Linked DNA regions of Homo sapiens: region 2 is linked to region 1. The links come from fine-mapping of genetic effects on gene expression. A gene starts in region 1. The other region holds a variant in brackets. All regions are shown on one strand. Distances are from middle to middle. Region 1 holds the start of EIF3M (eukaryotic translation initiation factor 3 subunit M). Region 2 overlaps PRRG4 (proline rich and Gla domain 4).

Region 1 (8,493 bases):
CATATACTATTTTAGCATAAAAATATACTTTCGTTTATCAGATGAATAATTGCCTCATTCTGAGATGCTGATACAGACTTGAAAACAAATTTTAGATATTACTGTCATGCAAAGCATTCTTGTAAAAAATATAACTTTGCTCCAATAATACAATTTCAAGCAAATATATTAATATGGCTCTTGCAAATAGAATACTTAAAAACATAGTTAAATCCACATTTTCCGGAATTTTTAATCAGAAAGGAGATAACAAAGGGAACATAGACAAATTAAACAATAAAGAAAAACTGTACATATTTGGTTGTATTTTTCAGGTAAAAATTAAACTAAGATAATACTGCCTTGCAGATGGTGGGGCTTTGTTCAACTCCCTGGTGATTCCTTTTCCTTTTTTTTTTTTTTTTTTGGAGTCTCACTCTGTCGCCCAAGCTGGAGTGCAGTGGCGTGATCTCAGCTCACTACAACCTCCACCTCCTGAGTTCAAGTGATTCTCCTGCCTCAGCCTACCAGGTCCCAGCTAATTTTTGTATTTTCAGTAGAGACAGGGTTTCACCATGTTGGCCAGACTGGCCTGGAACTCCTGGCCTCAAGTGATCCACCTGCCTTGGACTCCCAAAGTGCTGGGATTACAGGCATGAGCCACCGCACCAGCCAAGCTTTTAAAGAATTAAAGTTAGTTTTATTCAGAGGTCTTACCGAGGATTGCAACCCAGAGAGTCTTCCAGAGAGTTTCTGTTAAACTGCTCCAAAGCAGTGTTTCCGCACACAGTTTGTGTACATCAGTGGTGGCTCTGCCTGTGCTCAGAAGTTACATTAAATGTGCTCAGAAGTTACATTAGAGCGAAATCACATCATGGTTTGGGTGCCAGGGTCCATCTGGTTATAGATTATGGAGACATAATCATTATTGCTGTCAGACATGGGTGTGCATTATACCCATGCACATGAAGAGGCAGAGGCTAGGATCATTGAACTTATGTTTTCTAAAACTGCAGTGATTCAGGCAAGAGAATGGGGACCTGTGCTCTATCCTGTTTATCTTTAGGGTATTCTTCCAGAGGGTTGCCCTCACTCACTGAGTCAGGGGCTTTGCGAAATTCTCTGGCAAACAGAATGAGCAAACATTCCTTCTTAGGTTTGCTACTTTGTCTCACAAGATTCATCCTGACCTAGGTGAGGACAGGCATTTCCTACTCAAATGTTGCATTTCCCAAGACTACTCGGGCCTACCACACCTCCATCCTGTGTGTGTGTGTGTGTGTGTGTGTGTGTGTTTATTTTGAATGAATGAAAGTTTAAAGTTTTAAATAACTGAGGACAGGCATTTCCGCATTTCCTACTCAAATGTTGCATTTCCCAAGACTACTCGGGCCTACCACACCTCCATCGTGTGTGTGTGTGTGTGTGTGTGTGTGTGTGTGTGTGTGTGTTTATTTTGAATGAATGAAAGTTTAAAGTTTTAAATAACTGTCCATATCCTCTCTCAAGAATTTCCCTGGGTGTTCTTTTACTTCACAAGGATCACAGAATGAAAAAAAAAATAACAATAGTAAAAAAGAGACAAGTCTTTTAAATATTTGATAAAATGGTATTGTATTGTTGAGTTTGTATTCCTCGAACTTTGCAATAATAAGGCGAGGGGAGGAGCCCAGGGATTATTCCTTCAGAATCAACTGGTATTTCCTGATGATCTGCTGTGGGCTGGGCACTGAGGTGGGTGCGGAAATGCAGGGTGAACATGACACAGGTTCCCTGCCTTCAGTTTCACTTTCCACATTGTTAAGGCTATTCCATGCAAGAATGAATCCTTTCAAATTTAGTCTAGCCAGATGTTTTGTGTCCTCTATCCCCTCAACCTTGTTTTTTTCCTTTGCTTGGCATTTATTTTATATTGAAGTATAATTGTGGTATCAATAAACTGCACATTTTTGAACTGCACACTTTGAAAAATGTTATATATGTATACAATCATGACACAATCACAGTCAAAATAATGAACACATCCATAACCCCCAAAAACTTCCTCAAGCCCCTCTGTATCCATCTTTCCCCCCGCCTTACCCAATCCCTGCCCCCAGGCAACAGCAATCTATAATGCTGTCATTATAGTTTCTACTTTCTAGAGTTTTATATAAATGGAATCATACAGTATGATGATTAACTGAACAAAATTATTTTGAATTATTTTGGGATTGTCAACTAAAGAAAAAAAATCAAGCTTTTATTTTAAGAGATGGAGTCTCACTCACTTTGTCACCCAGGCTGAAGAGACTGAAAAAAAAAAAAGATTCATCTGTGTTTTTGCATGTATCAATAATTCATCCTTTTTTGTTGCACAGCAGTATTCCATTAAGCAGATGTATAACAATTTTTTGATCCACTTCATTCATCTATTGATGAACATTTGGGTTGTTTCCTTTTTTTTGGCTATTGAAAATAAAGTGTTAACTTTTTGGAAACTGTCTCCTGAAAAAGCTAAACATAAATTTACTAAATAAGCCACTGATTCCTCTCATAGGTACATACCTAAGAGAAATATACGTACACACAAAATCTTGTGCACTAACGTTCATGGAAACATTATTCATAATAGCCAAAAAATGGAGACAACCCAAGTGTCCACCAACTGATGAACAAATCAACACAATGTGGTATATCCATAACAATGCAATATTATAAGCAATAAATAGGAATATAGGAGGGATACATGGACGAACCTTGAAAACATTATGCTAAATGAAGTAAGTCTGACTTAGGCCACCGTGTATTTTGTGATTCCACTTACATGAAATGTCCAGAAAAGGCAAATTCATAGAGACAAAATGTAGTGTTTGCCAGGGGCTGGAGAGAGGTGGGGCCGGGGGTCTGGGGAGTGATTGCTGATGGGTAGTTTCTTTTGTAGGTGATGAAAATGTTCTAAAATTAAATAGTAGTGATGGTTGTGCAACTCTGAAAATACTAAAAACTACTGAATTGTGTATTTATTTTATGAGACGGAGTCTCGCTCTGTCGCCCAGGCTGGAATGCAGTGGCATGATCTGGGCTTACTGCAACCTCCTTCTCCCAGGTTGAAGTGATTCTCCTGCCTCAGCCTCCCGAGTAGCTGGGATTACAGGCGCGCACCACTATGCCCCGGTAATTTTTGTATTTTTAGTAGAGACGGGGTTTTGCCATGTTGCCCAGGCTGGTCTCCAGTTCCTGACCCCAAGTGATCCGCCCACCTCGGCCTCCCACAGTGCTGGGATTACAGGCGTGAGATCCACTGCGCCCAGCCAAAGCTGCTATTTTTTAAAAGCGGCAATGAACATTCTTGTACAAGTCTTTGTACGGACATACAGTTTGGGTAGAAGAATAGCTGGGTCATATGCTGGGTGGATACTGAACTTTTTCAGAAACTGCCGCTCCTCTGCAAAGTGACTGCACCATTTTATGTTCCCAACAGCAGTACAGGAGAGTTTCAGGTCTACACAAACCCATCCATACTTGGTAAGACCCAACAAGCTTAACATTTCAAGGGAAGGTGGACTTAGGGAGGCGCCAGCGGGAGGCAACATCAATGCAGTTAGCTACACGGGCCTGAAAACTGGAGGCCGCGACAAGCGTCGCTGAGTGGAGGCCCAGTAAGTCCCACCCACTAGGCCAGCCCGAGCGCGTCTGCCACGCCCTGCTGCATTCCGCGGCGAGAGCGCGCGATAGGATTGGCTCTCAAGGCCCCGCCCCAACAGGTCGCCGCTCAGGGTGACCCGGAAGCAGTTGCGCCAGCAGCGTCGCGCGGCCCAGTTCCCTTTTCCGGTCGGCGTGGTCTTGCGAGTGGAGTGTCCGCTGTGCCCGGGCCTGCACCATGAGCGTCCCGGCCTTCATCGACATCAGTGAAGAAGATCAGGTGTGCTTCGGTCTACGGGTGCCGCCACGGTGGGGTGGGGGATGTCCTAGTAGCGCAAGGGACCGCTGCCGAGCCTGGGCCGGGCGGCCGGGGCTGACACCCGCAGCTGTTCTACACGCGAGAATGGGGAGGCCGGTGGCTGGGGCGCGCGTTCCTGGCCTCGATTCGCACCAGCTCGCCGGCCGGCGGTCCCAGCGCGGGGCCCGACGCTTCACCGCCAGCTCCCTGGTCGGCGTCGGGACTCATTTCTGACGACATAGTACTTTTAGACTGATGAGGAATGATGTCTGCTTCCGTCCGTCAAATGCAGCCACATTCGGAGTGGGAGGTGGTGAATCTGTAGTTAGCATAAGCAGGGTAGGGAAAAGTAATTTTGTGCTAAAGATCAAAATGCCGGGCCGGGCGCGGTGGCTCACGCCTTTAATCCCAGCACTTTGGGACGCCGAGGCGGGCAGATCACGAGGTCAGGAGATCGAGACCATCCTGGCTAACACGGTGAAACCCTGTCTCTATTAAAAATACAAAAAAATTACCCGGGCGCGGTGGCACGCGCCTGTAGTCCCAGCTACTGCCGAGGCTGAGGCAAGAGAATCGCTTGAACCCGCGAGGCGGAGTTTGCAGTGAGCCAAGATCGCGCCACTGCACTCCAGCCTGGGCGACAGAGCGAGAGTCCCTCTCAAAAAAAAAAAAAAAAAAAAAGATCAAAACGCCCGTATTACTGTGCGATCACAGGCGAAGACGACCCGTATTTTACACTTGCTTTCTATTCCTACTTGTATGAGGGTGAGAGTTGTTCTGTACCCCGGAAGTATGGTATCAGTTCAGCTCTTAAATTCTGTGAGGCATACACCTGATGGACCATCCTGATATTTTTAAATTTCCCGTTTGGCGTTTGCTCTTTGGTATACAGGGCTGATGGTTCTCATTTTCCCCATAACAAAAGTTTAACCTTATTTGGTAGGAGTTGAACACGACATCGTATTCTTTAAGTTAATTTTGTATTGCTGAAAATTCTTCTGTGAAGTCCTAACTTTGTCGTTTTATTTCTGTTACTCCACTAACACGGAAGTAACTTCCAAATGATTGGATATCATAAACTTCGCATGGAAGTTTACTTGTCTAAGACAACTTACAGAATTGCGGGAGTGAGTTCCCCCTCTCTCCTCCCCCCGCCCCATGGTAGGAATGCAGTTCCGATGCTCTGAAGAGCAAAGTAAGAAGGGAAAATGCAAAAGGCGGAGAAAAGGTCAAGGATGGGGAGGTTAAGCACAGATAGGAAGATATGAAAGACAAAAAGATACCTGATTAGAAATGGAAGCATGTTACCAACAGTTGGCTGTTAGGTTAACTGAGAAAGTGTTTGGAATTTTTTTTTTTTTAACATACAAAGTGAATGGAGGAAGTTCTTGTCATTGATCGTATCTTAAAGTGTCTTTTCTCAGGCTCTGCTTCTGTTCTTGTAACATCAGTATCGCTGTAGACAGTCCTTTCAGGGAAATATGAAATTGCTCAGGATTAGTTTAACTTTGGTGAAATTCTCAGCTTGATTAGAGTTAAATGGAATTCTTTATCTTTTTTTGTTTTCCTTTGCTTATGCTGCTTCCACAACCACTTGTGGCAGTGAGGATGACAGAAAAACAGCAAACGTGGTTCAATAGTTCTTAGAAAAAGTTTGCTGTGTATCTGTTTCCTCCATAGAGAAGCATGAAGCATGATTTCTGGAGGTATTTTTGTTTTCTCTGACATGGTGACAGTTTGTTTTCTTTTTTTAATTTTGCTTATAATACCAACTCTTCTATGAAGTTACTGTGTTCTTGTTACCTGAAAGGATAGTACCGTCAGATCTGCAGGTTTAATACTTTCCTGAGGCAACTAAATATACTTGGGGGTTTAAAAATCTTGATGGCTTTGAATTTTTTTTTTTTGGCTTGGTCTAGAAAATGTAATGCCTGTGCATTTACTAATGGTATCCTTTCATATTCCTGTTGCACATCCTCATTTTATTATCTTTAAAACCAGGCTGAGCACGGTGGCTCACGCCTATAATCTTAGCACTTTGGGAGGCCGAGGCCCGTGGATCACCGGAGGTCAGGTGTTTGAGACCAGCCTGACGAACATGATGAAACCCTGCCTCTACTAAAAATACAAAATTAGCTGGGCATGGTGGCGCATGCCTGTAATCCCTGCTACTTGGGAGGCTGAGGCTGGAGAATCATTTGAACCCCGGAGGCAGAGGTTGCAGTGAGCCGGGATCGCTCCATTGCACTCATGCTATTGCACTCCAGCCTGGGCAATAAGAGTGAAACTCCATCTCAAAACAAAACAAAAAAAAACTGCGTTTGTTTGGCTGCCATAAAGAGTCCCAGAAGAAAAATGGAATAAATATATATAATTCGGTAGTAGGGTAGGAAATGTCCAAGTGACTGAATGTGCTATTGTAGTTGTGTTTTTATAGGTCCGAAGATGCATGCTGACTCAGATATGCATTTTTAATTTTAAGAGATTAGTTACATAACAGATCCAGTTCGATGTAATTTTAAGGCAGCATTCACCGCATTGCCCTTTTGTGAACCAAAATGCTTATCTCAAATAGCTTCTCAACTGATTAACAAATGATTACCCTTTTGCCAAGGTAATGTCTGTAACTTTTCTAGTAGCTGTGGTTATGTGTGTACTTGAGAGCAATACTATTGTTCATTTCTTTCAAAAAAATGAAATCTGCCAAGTCAGATTGATTTCTTCTCCCCAGCAACCACACCCCCACCAAACCCTTTGGGTTATATTATCAAAAAGATTTTTGCTGTATGCTGGAAGTCCAGCAGGGTGCAGACTACATGAGAGAAATTCTGAAGGTGATCCATGGGGGCTGTAGTGTGTCTAAGGAGCCACTGGACCTCATGGAGGAAAACCTGTGGCTCTTGTGGGATTGCCAAGATGGATGAGGTGAGGGAGGGGTCTTCAACATTATTTGAAATAGTTGTTGAATACAGTATTTCCGTTTTAGTTTTTCAGAAAGAGGACAGAATTTGAGATTGTGCTTTGTCATTCGTAGTCAGTTTTATAATAGAGCAATCCTCAACAGGCTGCTGAGCTTCGTGCTTATCTGAAATCTAAAGGAGCTGAGATTTCAGAAGAGAACTCGGAAGGTGGACTTCATGTTGATTTAGCTCAAATTATTGAAGCCTGTGATGTGTGTCTGAAGGAGGATGATAAAGGTTTGTTTTTAATTTTTTTCTAATATTTCCTAATAAAATCTTTTAAATTTTTCTTGTGAATTATAGAGTCGTCCCTCATTATCTGAGGCAAGGAGGATTTGGAACCCTCAGATACAGAAGGCTGACTGTATTTATATGTTTTGAATTTCAGACTACAGGACTTTTAAATAGATAGGTAGTGGTTGTATGTATTTTGGGGGCACAGGTGATATTTTGATACATGTATGCAATGTGTAATTATCAAATCAGGGTAATTGGAATATCACACATCTTTTCTTTATGTTGGAAACATTCAACAGTTCTCTTCTAGCTCTTTCAACTATACAATACATTGTTAACCAGAGTCTAAGCACTGTTGTTTTCAATCTTACCTTCACACATGCTTTCAGTTTGTGTAATCTATTATACCTATAAAGTAAACCTATTTTGAGAAAACCTTTATTTTATACATAGGTGTATTTCTTAAGTGTTATTACACTAAATGCTTATAGTCTTAGAATAAAATGAAAAAAATGAAGCTCTTTCCTGTTCATAAGTTTCAGATTAACATCAAATGGGATACAGTTTCAAGTAATCTAATAGCCATTTAATTATTAGGCCAGTTTCCTGTTTATTGAGATAGAATGGGAAATTTTCAGAATTGTTGAGTTCGGAAATCTCTAGTTAAGGTTTAGAGATCAAACTTGGATGCTGATTTCGGCAGCACATATACAAAAAAATTAGATTAAATTTGGGATATGATTAATATCTGTAATACTTAAAAATAACTAATTCAAGCAGAGAGCTGACAGCTTTAATTTCTGATTTCCTATATGTATACACAAAGTTTTCCTTAATTAAGAAAGTATCCTAGTCCTAAATCATACCAGTAACTTCCAAATGATTGAATATCATGACAGTGAAAATTGAAACTTTATATACATGTAAATCAGTCTCTGTTTTACTAGTTAGAAACCACATCATAGGCCAGGCATAGTGGCTCACGCCTGTAATCCCAGCACTTTGGGAGGCCGAGGCAGGTGGATCACATGGTCAAGAGTTCAAGACCAGCCTGGCCAATATGGTGAAACCCCGTCTCTACTAAAAATACAAAAATTAGCCGGGCGTGGTGGCGGGTGCCTGTAGTCCCAGCTACTTGGGAGGCTGAGACGGGAGAATCGCTTGAACCTGGGAGGCGGAGGTTGCAGTGAGCCGAGATCGCACCACTGCACCCCAGCCTGGGCAAGAGAGCAAGACTTCATCTGAAAAAAAAAAAAAAAAAAAAAAAGAAACCACATCTTAGGTATCAATTTCCTTCCTCTTTAATAAAATATACAAGTTGCTTTCTGAATGCGAAAGTGTCTTACATTTGATGGTCTTCATTGTATTAAAACACTGGAAATGCATATTTAACTA
Region 2 (8,493 bases), 280 kb after region 1:
TGTCAAAGTATTTTTATTTTTAATTTTTTGAGACAAGGTCTTGCTCTGCTACCCAGGCTGGAGTGCAGTGGTGCAATCACAACTCACTGTAGCCTGAACTTCGGGGCTCAAGCAATCCTCCCACCTCAGCCTCCTAAGTAGCTGGGACCACAGGTGCACCTCGGTACACCTGGCTAATTTTTGTGTTTTTTGTAGAGACAGGGTTTCACCATGTTGCCCATGCTGGTCTCTAACTCCTGAGCTCAAGGAATCCACCCACCTCGGCCTCCCAAAGTGCTGGGATTACAGGCATGAGCCACCACACTGGACTGCTGTGTCAAAGTTTTGCATCTTTTTTTTTTTTTTTTCCAGAAGGAGTCTCACTTTGTCACCCAGGCTGGAGTGCAGTGGAGTGATCATGGCTCACTGCAACCTCCGCCTCCCAGGTTCAAGGATTTCTCCTGCCTCAGCCTCCTGAGTAGCTGCATTACAGGCACCTGCCAGCACGCCTTGCAAATTTTTGTATTTTTAGTGGAGATGGGGTTTTGCCATGTTGGCCAGGCTGGTCTCAAACTCCTGACCTCAGGTGATCCGCCCGCCTCAGCCTCCCAAAGGGCTGGGATTACAGGCGTGAGCCACTGTGCCTGGCCCCAAGTTTTGCATCTTTTAATGCCCTCTGAACAAATACATAGAGAAAACTCTCAGAACAATTAAAACCTGCAGAGCAACAGTGTCCTCCATGTCTTAGGTTTCAAGTTTGCCTCTAAAATTCTAATCCATATTTTTCTACTTCTCAGATAATTTATGTGTGTGTACTCTTCCTAGACGTACAAGAGACTTTTTAATGCTAAATATTTGTCAGTGCTTAACAAAAACTCAATTTCACATTACTCATATTGTTTTTGTTTTAATTGAATGTGAATTAAATTTTTATTAGTTATTTGATTTGGAATGTTATGTATGCCATTAACACTATTAGGGGAATCTCTAGCATTTCTGTATTTTTAAAGAATTTGATTCTTTTGTAGATTCTGCCTGTGTGGTCATTTTAAAACATGTGTGACATATATCAGTACCTTCATTCTTCTATATTTTGTGTCTCCTCCAACCTCCAACTTTTTTTGTTTTTTGAAAAATGTTTCTCTAACACCTCAACAGTTTAAGGTAATTTAGTACACATATATCAGTATTTTTGTGATCTGAAAAAGCAACCCATTTTCTAAATTCATATTTTTCCTAAAACTTTACTATGTTTTTATTTTAAGAGGTTTCCTGTTATATACACTTTTTACACATGCAAATAAACTTTATACCAAGTGAGTATTTATTGCTTGTTTCATTTAAGCATTCTTCCTCATATAATGGCATATAATGAAATATGATATTATATTAATTAAATTTGAACAACACATTGAGTGTTTTCAAAACAATATTTATAGCATGATGTCAATGTATATCTTTCACCCAATGGGGCTAGCATTCTATTTAGACAATTTAGTTGCAGTTGTGAAAGTGGTATTTTCTTTAACAAAATTTAAATATTTAATATAGTGTTTGAGGCAAATATATTACTCCTTAATACTAAAGTTATTTTTTGAGCTATATCTATACATAATTGAAAAAATCAGTAGTAATGTTATGCTAAATTATAAGAGTAATATAGCAAGACTTCCAGCTTAAAAGAAGTAATACGAAGTATCATACACATAAGTGAACATTGATTATTATTCAGTATTATTTAATGTTAAACATTTAGACCACCTTAAATTTTTTTGGATCCAAATGAGTTAGACATGAATGTTAATATTTATACTCCTTAAAATTACTTTTATCAAGAGAATGAGAAGACAAGCTACAGACCAGGAGAAGATATTTGCAAAAGACATGTATGATAAAATGTGTCCAAAAATAAACAAAGACCTCTTACAACTCGACAACAAGAAAACAAACAAGTCAATTTAAAAATGGGCAAAAGACTAAGACACTTCACCAAAGAAGATATGCAGATGGCAAGAAAGCATATGAAATGATGTTTGACATCATAGGTTATTAGGGGATTACAAATGAAAGCAACAGTGAGATGTCACTACACACCTATTAATATGCCCCAAATCTAAAACACTACCACCACAAAACATCCTGCTGGTGAGGATGTGGAACAACAGGAACTCTTGTTCATTGCTGGTGGGAATGCAAAATGGTATAGCCACTTTGGAAGACAGTGGTAGTTTCTTACAAAATTAAACATACTCTTACCATATCATCCAGCAATCATGCTCCTTACTATTTACCCAATAGAGTTGGAAACTCAGGCCCACACAAAAACCTGCACACAGGTGTTTGTAAGCAGTTTTGTTCATAATTGCCAAAACTTGGAAGCAACCAAGATGTTCTTAAGTAGGTGAATGGATAAATAAACTGTGGCACATCCAGACAATGGAATGAGAAAGACTTTCTAATTCTTTTTTAGAGACAGGGTTTCACTCTGTTGCCCAGGCTGGAGTGCAGTGGTGCAATCATAGCTCACTGCAGCTCACTGCAGCCTCAAACTCCTGGGCTTACATTATCTGCTCACCTCAGCCTCTGGAGTTTCTGGGTTTACAGGCTCTAGGAGTATGACTTTTTAAGATTCCACATATAAGTAAGATAATATGATATTTGTCTTTCTAGGCAATGCGAGTTAGCATGTATTGAACACTATACTAGTTTTCTATTGCTTCATAACAAAATACCACAAATTAGCAGCTTCAAACAACACACATCCCACAGTTTCTATCAGTCAGAGTCCAGGCACAGCTTAGCAGAGTCCTCTACTTAAGCTTTGACAGGGTTGGAATCAAGGTGTTGGCCAGGGTTGGAGTCAAGGTGTTTTCATCTGGAGGCTTTACTATAGAAAACTCCACTGTGAAGTCTCTCTTGAATTATTAGCAGAATTCATTCTGATGCATCTGTAAGACTGAAACCCTTTATGGGCAGGAGACAATAAGGCAACCATAGCTCCAGAAGCTGCCTGCTGTTCCTAGAACCTACCTGTAGTTCCTTGCCACATCAGCTTCCTCCTCATGGCCCTCACTCTGTCAAGCCAGCAAAGAGACCTCTAGAGTGTGCCTGCTATAAAATGAGGCCTTATATAATATAACATCTTCACAAGAGTGACATCTCATCACCTTCTATTGGTTAGAAAGAAGTCATGGGTTTTATTAACTCATCAGGAGAAGATTCTACAAAGGAGTAAATACCAGAAGTGAGCAAGCCTTGAGAATCACTTTAGGTTCTGTCCACCAAA[G/A]GCCCTATCATGTGCCAGTTTCTAGGCCTTCATGTGCCTTCCATATGATCTTTCCTTTCATATAAGCATATTTAAAAAGTCTTTCAGGCTGGGCATGGTGGCTCATGCCTGTAATCCCAGCACTTTGGGAGGCTGCGGTGGTTGGACCACCTGAGGTCAGGAGTTGGAGACCAACCTGGCCAACATGGTGAAATCCCATCTCTACTAAAAATACAAAAATTAGCCAGGCATGGTGGCATAAGCCTGTGATCCCAGCTACTTGGGAGGCTGAGGCAGGAGAATCACTTGAACCTGGGAGGCAGAGGTTGCAGTGAGCCAAGATTGGGCCACCACACTCCAGCCTGGGTGACAAAGCAAGACCTTGTCTCAAAAAATAAATAAATAAATAAAAAGTCTTTCAATTGTAAAGTCATATAAATATCATATAACAACTAATGCTAATATCTTATTGTTTCTTGAAAACCTTGTAATGTCTCACTATTTACTAATTTTACCTGTTCATTTTTCTACAATTCCTAGCATTAAATAGCCATAAACTGATTAAAGTGCTTATATCAGAGACAATAAATTGAGAGCAGCTTGGGAAACTGGTCCTACTCCTTAGCTGACCAAGGCAGATTCACCCAGATGGAAAGGAGCTGAAGAAGATCAGATCAAACCCACAGTCCTAGCATATCCCTGAATGTCTTCTTTACCCCACATTTGATTTATAACATGGCTGTGTATCGTGTTCTAGGTTAATAATCATTTCCCTTGGCATTTTGTAGATATTCCTCTAATGTCTTCTAGCATTTGATTGCAATCAAGAATTCTAACAATAATTCTGATTTCATGACTTTGCACATGACCCTTTATTTCCCACTGGAACCTTTCAAATCTTTTCATCCCTGGTGATCTCAAATTCATGAGTCTGTCCAGGCATGGTGCCTCATACTTCTAATTCCAACACTTTAGGAGGCTTGAGCCCACGAGTTTGAGACCAGCCTAGGCAACATAGTGAGACCTTGTCTCTACAAAAAATTTTTTTAAAAATTAGCTTGATGGTACAAACTCCATACTACTCTGGAGGCTGAGGTGGGAGAATCACCTGAGCTTGGGAGGTTGAGGCTGCAGTGAATTGTGATTGGGTCACTACACTCCAGCCTGAGCAAGAGAGCAAGACATTGTCTCAAAAAAAAAAAAAAAATAGCTGGGTGCGATGGCTCATGCCTGTAATCCCAGCACTTCGGGAGGCTGAGGCAGGCAGATCTCTTGAGCTCAAAGTTCAAGATCAGCCTGGGCAACATAGTGAAACAACATCTCCACCAAAAATACAAAAAAAAATTAGCCAGGCGTGATGGTGCCTGCCTGTGGTCCCAGCTACTCGGGAGGCTGAGGCAGAAGGGTCAACCGAGCCTGGAAGGTGGAGGTTGCAGTGAGCCGAGGTTGCAGTGAGCCAAGATTGCACCATTACATTCAAGCCTGGGTGACGGAGTGAGACCCTGACTCAAAAAAAAAAAAAAATTATGATTCTGAGGCTTGGGATAAGTTTTCATTTATTGTTCATGGCATCCAATACCTCCTTTTATTCTAGAGATCTGTGCCCTCCAATTCTAGGAAATACTCCTGTGTAATTTTTTGCTAGTTTCCTTACCTTTGTTTTCTCTGCTTTTTCTGCGATTCATATTGGCTGAATATTGTACTTCCTTGATTGATCCACTATTTTCCATTTCCTTCTCTGTTCTACTTTCAGCATAAGTGTAACTGAACCCAGGTTCAACGGCTTGCTGCTAGAAAGCCAGACACAAGAGACAAGGGTTGATGGGAGGAAACCAGGTTCATTCAGAAAACCAGCAAAATTGACAAGATGGTGAACTGTATGCTAAAGCACCATCTTAAATTTTCAGGTTGGCTGGAGAGTTTTTATGGGAGGGGAATAAAGCGAAGAGGAGGGGGTTGGGATCAAGAGGTGACCGAGGACTGCAGATATCTGGGCACCAGCAAGGGTCAGAGGAGGTTGGAAACTTCTTTGCCCTTGGTCAGTTCACAATGCTCCTGTAAATCTTTAACAAAACATAGTTAGTTGTTTAGATACTTACCCTTTAATCCCAGACTTAGTTGTAAAAATTACATGATTACTGTTTTTGCATATTATTTCAGTGCTCTAAAATTAGCTGGAATGGTGGAAGGCCACTTAAACAAAAATTGAGTTAGTTATGTTAGTTCTTTGCTATTTCACTGTTACAATTCCCCACTGTGAAAGGCTCATTCCACAGTCTTGTGGAATTAGGGACAATGGGATGTTGTCTCTCATCTGGCTACTCCCTGTTGAACAAGGTTCATGTGGGGCAACTGTGAAACCAAACCATTTGACCTGGTAGCAAGCTGACGTTCAGGTCCTTGTTCCTTTCAGGTTTTTAGGAGGACCTGATCTCCCAGTTGAGAAGGATGGAGGGCCATGTTTGTGGAATAAGTGATCCTGCTAGAAGCAAACTCATGAATAGAATTTAGTATAGTGCCTAGAGTCTTAACATATTTGGCAATTGCTAAATTATTTATTTCGAGTTTGGTTCATTTTTTTTTTAGTTTTTCCCATTGATCATGGTCTCCAAGATGACAATCTAAAGGTTGAAGGAAGGAGCAAGTCATAGATTTCCCTGACATTTTCATAACCATCATAGTCTTCTGTGAATCAGGGCATAGATAGGTACTAGCTATAGAATATGTGGCCCTCATATCCGTAAGTAAATAAACCTGTTCCTCACTCTCAATTGTAACCAGGGCCCCTGTGGGGATATTGACAGGTTGGCTAAATATACATATTTAGCAGGTTACAGAAGGAACTATAAATATTTATGAAGGTGGTCCTGACACATGCATATTGAACAAACATATATGTAACATATGACCCATGTTTTCCTTGGAGTGGAGACTTAACTCTTGCCTGGCATGGCCTTAGGTCCTATTTATACTTTGGTATCTTATTGCCACAAAGAGTTTATGTTTTAATGTTAACTCTGGTCAGTTGCTGTGTCTAAACCATAAAAGGAAAAGGGTATAATGAAGTGTGTCTGACCTCCTGTCCTCTCATGGCTGGGAACTATGTTTTTTTTTTTAAGTTTTTTTTCTTGGGGGTTCACTTGGTCAAGGGGGATCCATTCGATTGGTGGGGTGCTTAGGACTTCATTTTTTAGTTTAAATTTCTGTTTTTTGATCAAGATATGCCAGAGGCAGCATCAATGGCTAAACTTTTATTTTGTCCCATATTGTTGCCAGGATGGTGTGGCTACCTGACCCAGGTCCATCATGTCCCTTGGTGGGATCCCTATGGCCAAGGGACTTAGAGTAAAAAAACTTATAGCTAATTAATCATTCTAAGCCAGATGGGAATGGAAGTGAGTAGACACTTAACCCTTAAAACCCTTTTAAGTAACAAAAGAGCCAAAAACCAAAAACCAAAAGGCAAGGTTACAAAATTGACTTATGTAAAAGCTTTACATGTTGAAAGAATTAGCAATGTTTATTTGATTTTGAGGACATTTGTCAAAGATGTAAAAAGCCTCAAAATATTTGATAAAAACAGAATAGTTATTCATTTAATCAAGAGTGACAGTCAAAATACTTCAAGAGCAATACAGAAAGTGACATGAAGATACAAATTTTAACCATTTTATTTATTTTTATTTTTTTGAGATAGGGTCTCACTCTTGCCCAGGCTGGTATACAGTGGCACGATCTCGGCTCACTGCAACTTCTGCCCCCCAGCCTCAAGCAATCCTCCCACCTCAGGCTCCCCTGAGTAGCTGGGACCACAGGCGTACACCACCACACCCAGCTATTTTTTTAATATTTTTTTGTAGAGACAGGGTTTCACCATGTTGCCCAGGCTAGTCTCAAACTCCTGAGCTCAAGTGATCTGCCTGCCTTGGCCTCCCAAAGTGTTGGAATTCCAGGCATGAACCACTGTGATTGGCCTTAACTCTTTTAAAGCTCAAGTTTCCTAAGGAAGCAAAAAATTAATACAGACAATATAGGAATTATCTTTTTTATTTTATTTTTATTTTTTTGAGGCAGAGTCTTGCTCTGTCGCTCAGGCTGGAGTGCAGTGGCACTATCCCGGCTCACTGCAACCTCCACCTCCCAGGTTCAAAGGATTCTCCTGCCTCAGCCTCCCGAGTAGCTACAAGTACGCGCTACCACACCTGGCTAATTTTTATATTATTAGTAGAGACGGGGTTTTGCCATGTTGTCCAGGCTGGTCTCGAACTCCTGACCTCAAGTGATCTGCCCACACTGACCTCCCAAAGTGCTGGGATTACAGGCATGAGCCACCATGCCAGGCCAGGAATTATCTTAATAAAATGCAAAATCTTGTTTCTTAAGCCATTTGCCAGAAAGGCAAAGAGAAAACATTTGCAGTGTGATTGCTTCTCCTTATGAGAAGCCCATTTAGATAACCTAGAAATCAAACCTGAAGAATAGAGTACCTGAACTTAATCAGACACAGGAAGAGTGTTTTCAAAGTTATGAGTATAGCATAGCAAGGGAATACATGACTCTTAGTAATTGCATGAGAAGTTTCCTAATTACATTTAAAAATTTAGACATATCAAGAAAAGTCAAGAGTACAGAATCAAGCTATACTGGAGGAAAGCATTGCTTTTTCAGACCTTCAAGATACCACTTTTCAGCATCAGGCCACAACAACAGTTAGAACCAGAGGAAAAAAGTTACAGAAGCTGATAAAAAAGCAGAAGGAGAGATTTCTCATTTCAGGCCTTCTCAAGAGGAGAATAAGCTGAAAGCAGTGAGACACAACAAAAGCTGAACTTCTAAGATATGAATCTGAAAAGTTTTCAAAAGAAACAGTTTCAGAATTAAAAATCAAAATGTCTTATAATTTCACTAAGATTGGCCGGGCATGGTGGCTCATGCCTGTAATCACAACACTTTGGGAGGCCGAGGCAGGTGCATCACCTGAGGTCAGGAGTTCGAGACCAGCCTGGCCAACATAGTGAAACCCTGTCTCTTCTAAAAATACAAAAAATTAGCTGGGCTTGGTGGCAGGTGCCTGTAATTCCAGCTACTCAAGAGGCTGATGCAGGAGAATCACTTGAACCTGGGAGGCAGAGGTTGCAGTGAGCCAAGATGGCGCCATTGCACTCCAGCCTGGGCAACAAGAGCAAAACTCCGTCTCAAAAAAAAAAAAAAATCACTAAGATCAAATTAATACCTTAAGAAAATCTTAT

Evidence for each region. PIP is the estimated chance that this variant, and not a neighbour inherited with it, causes the effect.
Region 2: its variant is the best candidate, but not a certain one, in a credible set for the expression of EIF3M in whole blood (INTERVAL, PIP 0.57).

What each region holds. Positions count from the first base shown.
Region 1 is chr11:32,580,047-32,588,539 of GRCh38, forward strand. It overlaps EIF3M (eukaryotic translation initiation factor 3 subunit M), which reads left to right and starts at 3,785. Exons shown (of 11, transcript NM_006360.6): 1 at 3,785-3,883; 2 at 6,966-7,098. The coding sequence starts at 3,842. RefSeq lists enhancers at 3,496-4,148, 3,791-3,940 and silencers at 3,571-3,630, 6,661-6,760.
Region 2 is chr11:32,856,822-32,865,314 of GRCh38, forward strand. It overlaps PRRG4 (proline rich and Gla domain 4), which reads left to right. Exons shown (of 6, transcript NM_024081.6): 6 at 1-1,299. Among named protein-coding and RNA genes, the nearest start is that of PRRG4, 31 kb to the left of the region's middle. The variant G/A (reference allele first, on the strand shown) is at 3,266.